2 linked regions of the Homo sapiens genome follow. The protein of the gene in region 2 interacts with the protein of the main gene of each other region in a biochemical or structural test. Each region holds a gene or a part of one and is shown on either strand. Other genes may lie near its edges. The genes, in order: DYRK1A and LIN52.

Evidence for each region.
Region 1: of the proteins of LIN52 (region 2) and DYRK1A, one has a biochemical effect on the other in vitro, tested with the Homo sapiens proteins (3 studies listed by BioGRID).

Annotation. Positions count from the first base shown.
Region 1 is NC_000021.9:37,369,166-37,377,332, reverse strand, and holds part of DYRK1A (dual specificity tyrosine-phosphorylation-regulated kinase 1A), read right to left. Parts: intron 1-8,167. UniProt on the Homo sapiens protein: Dual-specificity kinase which possesses both serine/threonine and tyrosine kinase activities. Exhibits a substrate preference for proline at position P+1 and arginine at position P-3.
Region 2 is NC_000014.9:74,192,631-74,200,797, forward strand, and holds part of LIN52 (protein lin-52 homolog), read left to right. Parts: exon of another isoform or gene 1-647; intron 648-6,291; coding exon 6,292-6,347; 3' UTR 6,348-8,167.

The sequences.
Region 1 (8,167 bases), on a different chromosome or scaffold from region 2:
CCTGACTAACATGGTGAAACCCCATCTCTACTAAAAATACGAAAAATTAGCCGGGCGTGGTGGCAGGGGCCTGTAGTCCCAGCTACTCGGGAGGCTGAGATAGGAGAATGGCGTAAACCCAGGAGGCGGAGCTTGCAGTGAGCCGAGATTGCGCCACTGCACTCCAGCCTTGGGGAAAGAGCGAGACTCCGTCTCAAAAACTAACTAAATAAATAAAAAGCTTAAGTTGCAAAACTGTGTGTTTAGTATGTCTGATCCCATTTGGTTTGGATTTTAAATACACAGACACTGTGTACATACACACACACACACCTGTCTATGCACTTAAAAATAATGGAATCATACATAGTTTTCTAACACAATACATACTAAAAGTATAATATATATAATTGTGTGTGTATATATACACATGCATACATTTCTGGTAGGAAAAACTGAACAGTTATTATTATGGAACATGAGAAGGGGGAAATGATCTGCTATCATTCCACAGAGCTTGTTTTTTTAAACTATATACTACTTGTGGATCTCTTTAAAAACTAGAATATCCTAGATGATCAGAACCGTACCTTATATGTTTGATAACACTGCTCAAATACGGGCCCTAACAAATAAGACAGTAAGAAAACAGGGACACTCCCTCTAGTCCAGTAGTTAATCAAGCGCAGGGTCCTAGGCAGAATTACCCACAGTGCCATTACCAACACTCTCAGTGATAGGAAGCCATCGAAGCAAGCTAACACTACCAACCTCTGGCCACCAGAGAATACTCACATGAACCTTCCCATGACCATACCACAAGGTGATATTTCTTAAACATACCCTTAAAAAAAAAATTGAGACGAAGTCTCACTCTGTCGCAGTGGCACGATCTCAGCCCACTGCAACGTCCGCTTCCAGGGTTCCAACAATTATCCTGCCTCTGCCTCCCAAGTACCTGGGACTACAGACACTCACTACTGCACCTGGCTAATTTCTGTATCTGTAGTAGAGATGGGGGTTTCACCATTTTAGCCAGGCTGGTCTCGAACTCCTGACCTCGTGATCCACTCGCCTTGGCCTCCCAAAGTGCTGCGATTACAGGCATGAGCCACTGCGCCTGGCCTAAACATACCCTTCATTTTTCTCAGTAAAGGGCACATGGACTGTGTTCTTCCCTCCTTTCCAAAACATTCTTAGTGCAGGCATCATTCTGATTTCTGGACTGACACCTGCACTAAGCAGCTGTTCTCCCCTTTGACCACTCCCAGTGGAACTCCTCCCAGCACTCAGACTCTCTCTTCTCTCTGCCAAGCCATTCTGTCATTCTGTTCTTCATCTCCTCGTCTGCTTGTGGGGCCTGCGGTTTCAGGTTTATATTGGTATAGGAAGAGGGGGGCTTGGCGGGCCAAAAGGCAACTTTTGGGTGCAAAAACAGGCATGCCTGTTCCAATTTAGGGCTATGGGTTTTCAGGCTAGATCTAATAATAATAACTGATACAAATAAAGTGTTAACCTCATAACAGGTAAAGAATATTCCTCCAGGGCTGGGTGTGGTGGCTCACACCTATAATCTCAACACTTCGGGAGGCCAAGGTCAGGAGTTGGAGACCAGTCTGACCAACATAGTGAAATCCCGTCTCTACTAAAAATAACAAAAAATTAGTCGGGTATGTGACAGGCACCTGTAATTCCAGCTACTCGGGAGGCTGAGGCAGGAGAATTGCTGGAACCCGGAAGGCGGAGGTTGCAGTGAGCCGAAATTGTGCCACTGCACTCCAGCCTGGGTGACAAAAGTGAAACTCCATCTCAAAAAAAAAAAAAAAAAAAAAAAGTAATATTCCTCTAGGAATATTCTAATTTTAAAATTTTAAACTAGAGAATTCCAGATTTTATCTTAATCTAATGAAATGAATTCCAACAGTGAAAATTACAAGCAACCTAAAAGGAAAGTAGTAATTTGAGGACAAGAACTACCTTTGTTCCTTCTAATCATGTCAAGTAAGTAGCTGCCTATACATCTATTCTAATGCTGTATATACATTGCCCACAATAGTGCTGATACTAACAAAACCTTACTTAAAACCTTCAGCTTTTCACCTTTAAATATTCACTTAACCTTTAAACATTCACTTGAGTATTTAAATATTCACATTATTTTTCTATAGGGCAAAAAGGACAACTGGGCCAACCATTCACTAGACATAAGCTCCCACATTAAAAGCCACATACTTACTTTAAGATGATAACTATTCCTATAAAATCCCACTGCACTCTGTACACCTTGTCCTTTATTCCCTCTTCTGTAGAAAGAACAAAGAACGAAGAGTCAGGAAAAACAATGCTAGTCCCAGGCCTGCTTATTCTGAGGCACTGATTAGTCACTCAGCTTCTCTGCACCCACTTCCTTCTCTAATATGTGAGAAATGAACTTTATTGGTGTTTCTCAAAATGTTCCTACTGCATCAGGATTACCTGGAGTCCTTAAGAAAACAGATTCCAGCTAGGCCCAGTGGCTCAAGCCTGTAATCCCAGCACTTTGGGAGGCCAAGGCAGGCGGATCACGAGGTCAGGAGATTGAGACCATCCTGGCTAACACAGTGAAACCCCGTCTCTACTAAAAATACAAAAAAATTAGCCAGGCGTGGTGACAGGCGCCTGTGGTCCCAGCTACTTGGGAGGCTGAGGCACAAGAATGGCGTGAACCCAGGAGGCGGAGCTTGCAGTAAACCGAGATCGCACCACTGTACTCCAGCCTGGGCGACAGAGCGAGACTCTGTCTCAAAAAAAAAGAAAGCAGATTCCAGAGCATCACTCTAAACCTACAGAAAGAGAGGCATCTGAGCTTGGAAATCTCTTAACTTTGACAAGTTCTCCAGAAGACTGTTTGGGAACCATTAGTTTTCCCAAGTCTGTACTAGAGCTAATAATATTTCATAGTTTAAGGGAATCTTAGATATTTATATTTCTCTTTTTTCAAATCCACAGGAATTCAAGAGGAACATACTAGATAGTAAATGTACGTTTAAATATCTCTGCTATCATCCTTCTTGCAGTGTTCGGTGACTCAAATCTTTATGACATCCTGACAACATGCGAGTGTTATTGTAGCATTGTTTGCTGAGGGTATGAGCAAGAAGACATTCAGTTGGTCCAGTGGACTATTAACACTAAATGCAAAAGCTCAGATTTCAAATATTGCTTACGTGATACAAGCACAGCAATCAAGAACCATGTTTCTATCAGAAAATAAAGCGTCAGTAAAATAACTGTTATTAGACCCAAAATCCCTTCACTACTAAAAGTATAGCTACATTTTTCTAATCTGACCACTTACTTATATTTTGCATAACGGTCTATTTGAATTCACATACCATAGTTTAAAAAATTAATGATTAAATACAGAAAATAAACTTATTAACTAATGCAATCCATTGTATTTTCAAAGTCTATTTCTGGAAGCTTCTCCCAAAACATTTTGAAGTGTAACAGGCAATGTTTAATCATCCCCCATTCTCCCCTTCTTCAGTAGACCCAAATTTTCAGCCAAATAGTCACCTATCAAAGACCACATATCCCAGACTCCTTTGTATCTAAACATGGCCACATGACTAAGTTATGACCAATAGGGTATGAAGAAAAATCATGTATGCAACTTCCAGGTTTGTCTTTAAAGGGATGGAATGTGCCTTCCCAAAATCCTATTCCTGGACTGTGGATGTAGTGAGAAACTGCCTTGTACTATGAAGAAAATGGTAAGCACAGGAAAGCAACAAGACAGAAGGAACCAAGCTCCCTCACATCGTGGTGCCACCATATCAGCCTTAGATAAGTTATACTGTTGTTTTATGAAGGAAAAATAAATTTCTCGTTTAAGCCACTGTATTTAGTCAGAAACAGGCCCATCTACATTCTAACTGGTACATATAAGAAAGCTTAAATTTATCGTAACTCTTAAATATTAGCTACCAACCAACTCAGCAAAGCTAAAATTCTATACTCTTAAGTCACAATAGAGCTTCCTACTGAATAACCCCATTACTGAGATTATTGCTACTGTGCCATTTTATATTTATATGGCATTTTACACTTCAGCACTTCATTATAGTGTCTCATTTCACATTCTCAAAATCCTGGGCAGGGCAGCCGGTGCTATCTATATCTGGCATACAGGATACTGAAGCGAGGAGAAGCTGTTTTGCCCAAGATGACATGGCTAAGGAGTGGTAGTCAGGAAGGATTCAACATACAGGTTCCGCATTCTATCATTCTATGAATCTAAACCCCCTATGTGCCAGGCACTGGAGTTACAGCCATGATCAAGAAAAACTTCTTCCTGTCCAAATGGACTTTAAAATTTAATGGAGAAATTAAATTTACAATTATATTAAATGAAATTTAATGAACAATTATATATAAGAACATATATGAATAATCATATTTGCAGTAAGGGTTGCAAAGAAAAACAAATGGTCCTGCTTGGCCAAAAAAAAGAATGCATGGCCAAGGAAGACTACCTGGTTTGGGGAAGGCCTCTCTGAAGAAAATATTTATGCTAGGATCACAGAATGAGCATGAATGAAGATGAGGAGAGAAAAAAGGAGGAGAAAGAAATCCATGAAGAAATGTACATGCATTATCTCAATTTTCACAAGATTCCTATGCTAATTACTATCAACCTCATTTTACAGATGAGGGAACTGATGTTTGGTGAAATCACTGTACCTAAAGTCACACAGCCAACAGAACCTGTTGAGACTCAGATCAGCCAGATTCTGGAGCCTCTGTTCATGGTTTCATGGGCAGGGGATCTTTCCACAGTATCATGCTGCCTCAACTGCTGTCTATAACTGGATAGCAAGCAGACAGACAGATGTCACAGTTCAAACCTTTTTTTTTTTTTTTGAGACAGTGCTCCACTCTGTCACCCAGGCTGGAGTGCAGTGACACAATCTCAGCTCACTGCAACCCCCCACCTCCCAGGCTCAACTGATCCTCCCACCTCAGTCTCCTGAGTAGCCTGGACTACAGGTGGCACTAACACACCTGTTTTTTTTTTGTTTTGTTTTGTTTTTTGAGACAGGGTTTCACCATGTTGCCCAGGCTGGTTTCGAACTCCTGGCCTCAAGTGATCCGCCCACCCTGGCCTCCCAAAGTGCTGAGATTACAGGTGTGAGCCACCACGCCAGGCCTCAAGCATCTTTTTACCCAAATACATGGGTGCCAAGATGCAAGCCTTAACCATACATGTCCATAACATTTTACGGACATGCAAAAGCTTTTGTGAAAAACCCAGAAGAGAAAATGCATAGCTCTGGTAGAAGAACCAACTGCCAAGATGTCGAAATGGCTCTATATTATCAAATAATATAGATAATGATAATACGGAAAAGCTTTTTGTGAAAGCTTTTTTAAAAATTAAAAAATCAAATCTTGTCATTGGAAATGTTATACACTCAAGAAAAATTAGGGGGTTATTTAATGAACAGGGATGTTATTTAAAATAGAGTTGATGCTGAAAGCCAGTTTCATTCTATGTTAAGCCAGTTCACTGGGCCCCCCCCAAAAATCAATTAAAACAAACTTTTCTAACATGGGGAGATAAAACAAGAATATTCACTGACAAGAACAAAGACACATTTTAAGCTATTACTCACTATGTATCAGATATGAGCATCTGCCCCAAACCAAAAAAAAATTATGTAACTTGTCAAAACCTAGTTTTAACAGTAATACAAACTTTTAAATATCGCTTTCTAGAAGAGAAGATACATAGCTCTGGTATAAGAACCAATTGCCAAGACACCAAAATGGTTCTACATTAGCAAAACATATATGCCCAAAAGAAACCACACCATTTCACGTGTTCAACGTAGGGTATTATCACCAATAAACAATTCTCACTCGTTTTAGTACTCTGGAAGTAGGATTTCAAAGCAAAAGCTTAACTTTTTAAATACCTAGCTGGCTTACGCAGTGCAATATTTCCAAATCATTTTGTTTCCATATAAAAAAATAATAATCAAACTAAGGCTGCTGGTAGCCAGTATTAACAAATAAGATCTTTCTTCAATTACCCAATATGAACGAACCTTCAATGATTATTTTAGTCACATGAAGTCTACATTTCACTTTCAAACACTCTATGGTAAACTTTACAACTCTAGCTTAAAATTGTAGCACTGACATAAGGCAAGATTTCAAAAAGCTTTCTTCATTTGGGAGCAACTGAGGAGAAATTTTAGGTAATTTAATATAATTTGCTGATTTTTCCAAGTAATTAAACACAAATTTTAACTCTCCAAACTTTTTAATCCAAAGTTGAGCAAGCTTTGGGTCATAAATTACCACCTCTCTAGCCATCAGAAAATTGCCCAACAGTCAAGATAACATCTGGTAAAAAGTCTTTTAAAAGGCAAAACCACCATATATACATAAGGTGCTATTACACTGGTCACACAATTCACTTTCACAGAGCAAACTGTTAGTATCAAGTTTCAGGAAACATTACTAATAGTTTCACGTAATATCTTTACTTCTAAATCGAAAATAGACGAACATATATGGAGGTAAAATCACCAAAACACTCAACAGAAAGTAAAGATTCTTGGTTCAGTTTAAATAACTGCTTATGATTACTACAAAATAAGACTAACACAACTTTGGGGATGAGGAACTAAATTCTTGATAAAGACTTTCTGGAAGTTTTTGGGTTTTGCTGGGTTTAGATAAGTTTTTTCTTGGGGAGGGGTGAAACTGCTTCCTGTGTGTGTACAGGAAACGTGAAAGCCTTCTCAAATATGAGGAAAGCTAATGCCAAAGCAAAGACAAACTGGCACACGCCTAATCACAAATACCAAGAAAGTCACAAGTGAAGCCCACTCTTCTACTAATCTTGTGTTCAGTGGCACAAGATTATAAGGCAATTCCCTTCTCGCCTATAATACAGTTAATTCTATCCACATTTTCTTCTCATAACTAGATACTTGTCAACCATAAACAGACACACGAAAACACCTCAGGGCAGCCTAAATTTCCAAGCTATTTCTTAAAAAAAAAAAAAAGGTTTTCAAGTGAAAACAAAGATTCAATCCAAATTAACACTTCGTGTAGTTACAAAACAAAATGCATGCCAAAGGTCACTGTATACCATGTTTATAACAAGGTATCTTGAATTTTCCTTTTGCAGATAGTCATAGCCCTCTAAAAACCTAATGTAAATTACCTAAATACATTGTTGCAGTTACCTAGGCCTCTCCACCCCCATATCTTTAAGTCATAAACAGTAACTCTCCATAAGTAACACGAAGGAGCAAACATCAGACAATATTTTGGAGGGGAAAAAAAATTTAACAAATGGTCGTTTTTACTGTCCACATTCCCTAACAAGACATTACACTAATATGGAATGTTTTAAATTATCTTAAATGTTACTGCCTCTAAAAAACTGGACTTATTTTTAGATATCTTGCACACAATAATGTGTTAAGTTTCTAATAGGTTCCACCAAAATATTGTTAAAAGGTTTAAGAGATGATCTTATACTTAGATCTCAAAACAAAGATCTCACTAGGTCATTTAGTCCATTTCCCACCCCTACCAATAATTACCATTCATTCAGGTCTATTCCTTCAAATATTTTTTCAACACCCACCAGGTAAAAAGGAGTGTGCCTTCATGGCGCAAACACAAGGGGTGACCCTTCCTCCTGCAATAATCTCTGAGCTTATGCCTCTCGAGGTAAAAATGAACTTTTTACAAGAGAACTTTTTACTAGTCTTAACAAGAGAACTAGGTGTAGACATTGACAGAAATCCTTAACTTTCTGGCATGGTTTGAAGTATAAATAAATTTGGACAGCTACCATAAACACCACTGCTATACCAGGGAAAATCCTCCAAAGTACTGGGATACCTGAAGTATGCGTAAAAAATCTTGACTATAATCAAGTAAGCTTTTTTCATAACCAGTTTCTTTGAAATGATCTTCTGCAGCTTAAAACCTTAACACATGAAACTTTAGTTCTGGTCTCACATTTTTAAAAGTCTACTTGAAAACAATATTATCCTAAAGTAACTGATCAAGACATGAGAAATTAAACAACACAAAAGCTAAAGGTAATTCCCCTGAGTTATTAAAACACCTCAAAATCAAAATGCTAAATATATTCATTAATACTTTGGACACA
Region 2 (8,167 bases):
CAGTGGTGCAGTCTAAGATTAAGAGGCATACACCACTTGGTAGACTAATGAAAGCTCGTTGTGAACAACAGTATATCAATGAGGCAGATCAGATTCCAATTTGATGGGCAGCCAATTAATGAGACAGACACACCTGCACAGTTGGAAATGAGGATACAATTGATATGTTCCAGCAGCAGACAGGAGGTGTCTACTACAAAGGGAACCTGCTCTTTACTGCAGAACTCCATTCCCACAGACCAGGAATACATTCTCAGAAAACTACAACTCCGTTGAATTCCATCCTGACTACAAAAGTGTAGGGTTTTTTTTGTCCTTTCGTGTACCCCTTTCTCATTCCTTTACTGTGCATAAAGTGACTGGCATTTGTGCACAAGCATATTACCTTTTTATTTTTAAACTAAATGGCCAATGATATGTTTTGATCAACATCAGATGGAGATAAGATGGGGATAAATACTGATTCTGTGGCAATGCCCCCTTTCTCCATTAGTGGCATGCTCATTCAGCTCTTATCTTTATACTTCATTAAGTTATTTTGCCTCATCATTTAATAAAAATCAATAACAAAAAATCCTTCCATGCTTGAAGCTAGTAGTTCAAGATCCTGTCTCCACAAAAAAAAAAAAAAGAAAAAAATTAGCCAGGTATTGCATGCCTGTAGTCACAACTACTTAGGAGGCTGAGGCAGGAGGATCACTTGAGTCCAGGAGGTTGAGGCTGCAGTGAGCTATGGCTGCACCACTGCACTCCAGCCTGGGTGACAGAACGAGACCTTGTCTCTTATAAAAAAAAAAAAAATCCTTCCATACCTTGTTAAATTTGAGAATTTTGGTGTTTTTCACGTGTCATTCTAAAACCAACCAGTTTTTAAACTCTTGTACATAGCTGTTACATGTAGGGCAATATGTCTTTAAGTAGGGATAAGTTACTCTAAAAGAAATGAATCTTAGATAGTTTTCCCACCAGGCATCCTATTGCTTAAGTAAACTTTCTGTTTGAAATGAAACAAATAGTTTTACAGTAGCTAGCATTTATTGAATGCCTGTGTGACTTTGTATTAATCCTACCTTGAATGAATGAGGAAAGGAGCTCAGAAAAATAACTTGGTAATTTGCCTATGTGGCCCAGGGTCAATGTAAGAGCTGAAGTCCTGCTCTTTTCACAATATTACATTGTCTCCTTTGTTTCCTGGCCACTCATATTACAATCTCCTAAAAGCAACCTGTTATTGCTCTTCTGAATATGAGAAACCCAGTGGAAAGTAATTTGTCCCCGCTTCACAAACATTTTTAATTATGTTGAGGCATAGAAATATTTAAAGTAGTTTGCATTGGAATTGAAAAACTGAACTATGAGTTTCTTCCACTTCATTAAAAAGTTTCTTAAAATTTACATTGTTCCCTACATAAAAGCTGAGCAGAATTTTATCAGGCAATTGCCTCAAAGTTATAATCTGGACAATCTTTCTGTAATAAAACCCATATGTCATTGGGGAAAGGTGCAGAGCCCTGGCAGAGAGGGCTGGTCTTGAGAGAGGTTCTGCACCCAATCTCGTTAACCAGGGTGCCTCTGGTAATCCCTCATCCCTCACCAGTGAGAAATCAATCTGTACCACTGAATCTTTTTCAACCAGCCACCAGAAAAATTTACTGCAGAGAAGGCAGTTTGGGGATAGTTATCGTGGAAAGTGAGCCAGAAGCAAGGCTAAATGTAGGATGGAGGAATTGGAGAGTCTAAAGAAGAGATTATATTAAACCACACACCACTTTCAGAGCAGGCACAGTGGAGTCCTCCTTTCAGCCCTGACCTCTCCAAGTATACCCAGGTATTTACAGCTGCCATGAACTGGATAGCCCTGGAGGAACTACGAAAGTGGTGGGGGATAACAGAAACAGTGGAAACCTGAAAGTTGATTGTAGTCTATCCATTTGCTGTCTCTCAGTGTGTAGTAGCCAGTCCCCTCTCCACACTCTGCAGCATTTCACATGTTAACCCTATAGTGACAGTTTCAATTGTGGCTTTCTCAATTTGTGATCTATGTACGACATAATAGGGCCTGTAAATCATGACTTGACATAGGGGTCATGCTTCTCTCCTGCACGGCATACACCAGTAGCTGATGACCAGTGGGCCCCTCTTGGCATAGTTATTAGAATGGAAGCGGTGTTGCCTTCCTGTGAAACCTTGTAATCTTAGAGAATAAATCCAGAATCAAAAAAATAGTTGACAGGCTGGGCGAGGTGGCTCATGCCTATAATCCTAGCACTTTGGGAGGCCAAGGCGGGCAGATCAACTGAGGTCAGGAGTCCGAGACCAGCCTGGCCAACATGGTGAAAACCTGTCTGTACCAAAAATACAAAGAATTAGCCAAGTGTGGTGGTGCATGCTTGTAATCCCAGCTACTTGAGAGACTGTGGCAGGAGAATCACTTGAACCGGGGAGGCAGAGGTTGCAGTGAGCTGAGATTGCAACATTGCACTCCAACCTGGGCAACAAGAGCGAGACTCTGTTTCAAAAAAAAAGAAAATAGTTGACAGATTTCACTGACTCTATATAACACTCTCTCTCTCCCAATCTTGTTGTGTCTAGAATTGTTTTCTATATAATATAATACATTATGGGGAACAAAGAAAAAGGAGAAAATGGAGGAACTGGGAGTGCCAAGCTGAAGAACATGTAGTCTTACTCTGGCCATTCATCCTAGAATTATACCAAGCTACAACCATTGTGAAGAAGAAGGGACAGAACCAGGCAGTGGGGAATAGAAATGGCTTTCTCTTCTCTGTAAGCAGGCAGTAGTCATCTCTAAAGATTTTTCCCCAAAGAGATTTGAAATTCCTGATGGGAGCTTAAAAAGCTAAGAGTAAAATACATTTATTTATAAGACCCTACTAGAAGAGGTGTGTGTGGGTGTGTGTGTGTATGTGTGTGTGTGTGTGTGTGCGCGTGTAGACGAGGAATACAGAATAGTAGCAGAAGGCTGTCTCCCTACTCCTAATGGGATTTTGTAGCAGTATGTGCAAGTTTGTTTCAGAAGTCAAAAATGAACAGATGTTAGTATAAATTACCTCTGTGTCTGATGTCTTGCAAATTAAAAGCGCAGTTGGCATCACTAAACAATTTCACTAGGTTTGGGGGGGTTCGGTTAGCGGGCGGTGATTACTGTAGCAGGTCGGTAAGAATCTTCGCCCTGCAGCAGAGCAAGGATAAAGAAATGAGGAATAAAATAAGGGCTATATGAATTAATCAGAAATGTTAACATCTCTGATGACAAGTGAACAGGAGGGCACGTGCTCTGGAGCAGCCCCTGACCCACAGCAATTTCTCTGTGCACAAAAAGGGGTTGGTGCTTAGCATCTGATTTATAGGGCACAGCCCTCTTTTAGGGAGCGGCTGTGTCATACATTCGTATATCTCCTGTATGGGACTGGCGAGTAGGAAAACTTTCTCTCCTCCCATGTAGGAGATGATGTCTTTTGAATTACTTCTACTTTTACAGTGGTTTCCTGCAGCTCTGTGTACTTGGATTAGGTTGAAGGGGGAGGAATGATTGAGTAGAAAAAGGGTTGTTAAAAAGGATTGGTTAAATTCAAGGAGAGCTTGCCACTGAGAGACTTCAGAATATCTATTTATTTTTCCTTTTAAACCCTTTTGACCCCTTAAATTGTGTGGATCTTTTAAAATTCTAAGTCTTAAAATATTGGTCATTTTCCCATTTGGGGAAAAACAGTAAGGAGTTGGTGAGTCTGAAGGTCAGCAGGCAGAAATCATTGGTTAGAGCAATGCAGTGCTCCAGGCCCAGGATTTTTGGAACAAGGCTCTATTCTCTCCAGAAGACTTTTGTATTGACCGTGTCTGGTTTCCAGAGCTCCTGCTTCTAGCCATGTTGCAGGATCATTAGTTACATGTTTAAACTTGAGAGTAGACAGATAACCCATCTAGTAGAAATAAGTGAGACCCAATCTGCCCAAAAGTATAAGTAAATTTCTTTTCCTTCAAGCTGAGGGAAAAGATTCCAAGGAACGGAGTTTTGTTTGCTAGCCTCCCTTTGTGCAGTTTGTTCATTCATTCATTCATTCATTCACTCACTCAGAAAATACTAAGTGCGAGAGAACTTACCCCCCTCTGGAAAGTGTTGTGTTAATGATTAGCACTATACCAAGCATGTTCATTGCTAATATCCAAGAGAAAAGTAGGGTATTAACATGCTCTCCGTTACAAATGAAGAGACTGAGGCTCAGAGATCTGCCCAGCCCAAGGTGTCACCCTGCTGCTAAGTGCTAGAGCTGAAACTTAAACTGAGTTCAAATCCTGTGTTCTCTGCAAGAAGCCCATGCTACCTCCTATGGGCAAGACAGTACTTGATTGGATTTTCTCTAGAGTAGTTAGTCCTTGACCCCAGTCTCTCCATGAACTTGGCATTATTTGCATTAAGGGAAATGATTTTCTTGCCAAATAAGCAAGGCACATTTAAAAAGACTCCCATCATGTAGAGAATGGAGCACTGAGGGCCACTAACTAGTCATATTTGTTAATGGAAAGGAAGGAAACTAACATTTTTTGCATTTCTACTTGGTTCTAGTTCTTTGGTGTATTATAATTTATCCAGTCAACACTTACTCAGCAGACACTAGGTCTGCTGAGTCTGTAGCAGGTCGGTAAGAATCTTCGCAGTGCAGCAGAGCAAGGATAAAGAAATGAGGAATAAAATAAGGGCTATATGAATTAATCAGAAATGTTAACATCTCTGATGACAAGTGAACAGGAGAGCACGTGCTCTGGAGTTTGGATCTGATTGTGGATCTTTTGCCAAGGGAGAGAAGACCAAAGCTCTTAACAGTCTCTGCCTTCAGTTTTTACATTTTAGTGGAGGAAGACAACCATATAAGCTAGTAATTGCATGCAAGTCTTATGGGAACTTTCTTGTACAGGATTTGCTGTAAATCCATGAAGGAAGGAATGGTCTGTTTGATTTGGTCTGGGTTGGGGTTGTGAGCACATGAGGCAAGACCCAACACTGGGCTTCTATGCCTAGTTAATGGAATTTCCTTTCCCTTTGTTGGGGCACAGGAACTAGTGAAAGATGGGGAATGTATAGACTGAAGTTACAAAAGCCTCCCTGTGGTCCCAGAGGTTGTGTAGTTTTTATTTCTTCATTGTACAAGAAAACAAGAAACTGTTAAACTTAAATTGGGGCAGAGGGGAGCTGGAGGCCATTCATCTAGCTCCATTTGCTCTGGACTTGGGAAAGGCAACAAGGAGGCCAGGGTGAAGGTCCTTCTCATTCCTGAGAGTGCCTCCCTAGCCACCTCACTTCTTTGGCCAGGACGGAGATGTGTTCTTGGGAGACCACACAGCCTACCCCGTGCCTACTGCATGGTTCCAGAAGGCCTGGCTTCCAGAGCCAGCCATCAGCGATCAGAAACTTTCTGCACTGTTAAATCCATTTAAGAAATCTGAAAACATGGCCTTGCAGGATGAGGATGAGGATGAGGAAGGGGCTGTTACACTACGTATGCTTTCTGAGATCTAAAATGGGAGACCTCTGGAGTAGCCCTTGTAATTGAGAAATGTTTTACTTTCATTTTGGAGCCTTATATGTAGGAAAGTAGCTGTATAAACCCACTTGTAACTATAGCATTCAAAGATTGATGGTGCTGAAAGCCGGAGAAAGACACATAAACCTTGGCTGGCTATATTAAATAGCTAAGGACTGACAATGCCAAGGGAGAGAAGACCAAAGCTCTATAAACCCTACTTTATGACACCATCCACAGATGAACTGCACTGAGGGAATATAAACCCTGTTATATTACAGTATCCAGGGACTAACACTGCTGAGAGATAGGGTAAATGATCTCTAATTTTGATTTGAGATTATAAATGTCCAGAGACCAGCAACCCAGAGAAGACTAATCTTGGTTGGATTTTAGGCTTCAAGAGCAAACCCCCTGAGATAGTGAACATGAGTATTAGGTTAGATTCTAGAGACAGAGATAGGTTTTGGGGGAATCCCCTGGTGATTTGTTTAAAGGTGGATGATAAAATCTTTCCCAGTCATTTGGCATGTATCTCAATTGCCAACTTCAGAATAGCTTTGTACAGTTTTAGTTGTCTATAGTGGTTTGTTTTTACCCCCTTTTAGGTTAGTTGGTGATGATTGAATCTGTTGTGATAGCAACTTGATATATAATTTAAATCAATCTGCATTTTTAAATTAAATCTTCCTATGATTCTTTTTTCCGATTTTAGGTTTTCATTGATCATTTGTTTGCTTTGTGATTCCAGCCAGAGAGATGACACGGGGGAAATTCCTCAATATTCTAGAGAAGCCCAAGAAGTAGCAGCTGCTTGCGGACAGGATGTCCTGGGGTCCGAAACCAAGCTCCCTTCCCGGTGCACCTCTAACAATGCACACCTCACTGCTTGCTTGGGAGAGGCCAGAGGGTGTACCTCCAGGACTGCCCTCTCCCCTGCTCCTGGCACTCTACACGTCTGAGGACATTCAGCAGCAAGAGAAGAATCTGCTCTACCCAAGGATCATTGCAGTTACTCAATCAACTTTCAGACTTGAACCTTCTTAGCCTCGGATATTGGTAACAGCTGAGGGCATATCATTCTTAAAGGTCGAAGTCCTGCTTTCTCATTTCTGGAAGTGATTCAGGAGCCCCAGGATCTTACGGTTGATTTGACTCAGTCATGGCAGTCAGTTGTGACATGTTGATTGGATGGGTTCTTTTGAATTGTTCTTGATCTCTTAGAAAGTGTTTACGATGTGAGGAGACCAGAGACCAAGTAGATTCTGGACCAGACCATGCAGCCTGACCTGTGAACTCTCCAGTATATACTAAGTTCCCAGAATCCCCAGCTGAAGAAACCAGAATCTTCTCGAAATGTATATCTGTTTTTTAAAACTTCTATACCTCTTATGATAGTCCCATTTGCTTTTCATTCCTTACTTCCCAGCCCCACCTTCTAGTTCTGACTTCGGGCAGAGGGATCCCTGAGTCCCTCCTGGAATTAGCTTGTATAGTGAAAGGCCCATCCAAGGTTGTCTAAAGACCAATGTGAAGGTGACAGAAAGGACTTTTGAGTTCTAATTAATCTGTTACAGCTTCAAGCAAGAAAGTCAGTATAGCCTGAAAGACAAGAGAAACGGGATGGTTTATAGGAGTTCCCATTTGGTTGAAAGCTAGAAGCCCTAATTGACCTTAAAGTAACATGCTATGGGATGGTGGGATTGTCCCCTCTGACAGCACATATGAAATAGTTCATCTATATAATAGAAACGCACACACACGAAAAAGAATCTTCTGACTTAAATACAACTTTCATGGAGTTCTTCACCACTTATCTGTCTCTGTTAAAATCTGAAAATCTAGCCCATGGCTAAAATCTATTATATGTGTTCTCCATATTTCTTGTATAAGCCAGTCCCCAGCATCTGATGTTTTGAGAAGTGCATGGAGTTTCCTAAACTTTGCACAAAAGAATATCCTGGGGCCGGGCATGGTGGCTCACGCCTGTAATCCCAGCACTTTGGGAGGCCGAGGCAGGTGGATCATAGGTCAAAAGATCGAGACCATCCTGGCCAATATGGTGAAACCCTGTCTCTACTAAAATACAAAAATTAGCTGGGCATGATGGTGCATGCCTATAGTCCCAGCTACTTGGGGGCCTGAGGCACGAGAATCGCTTGAATTCGGGAGGTGGAGGTTGCAGTGAGCCGAAATTATGCCACTGCACTCCAGCCTGGGCAACAGAGTGAGACTCTGTCTCAGAAAAAAAAAAAAAAAAAAAAAAAAAAAAAGAATATCCCTGTGGCAATAGTCTGATGGTGTTTGGACACAAGAAAAGTTATGGTTTTGAGTCGTGAGTGTTTGCTAGGGCATGGCACTCTTCAGTTTAACAGCTGATCCATTAAACCTTTTCTGACATTTGTGCCTTGTTCTCATGCTAGAATTAATGCTGGATTTTTCTCTCATTTGACCATCAATGTAGTTTTACTTATTGAAAGGAAAAAAGACTTAACACAAGATAGGAAAGATGAGTATGAGAAGTAAAACATTCTGCTGGGGTGCTACATAGAAGGTTAGGTTGTAGGGGCTTTGATTTTAATTTAAACTTATTATCGATTGATATTTCTGTATCTCACTAAATGCGG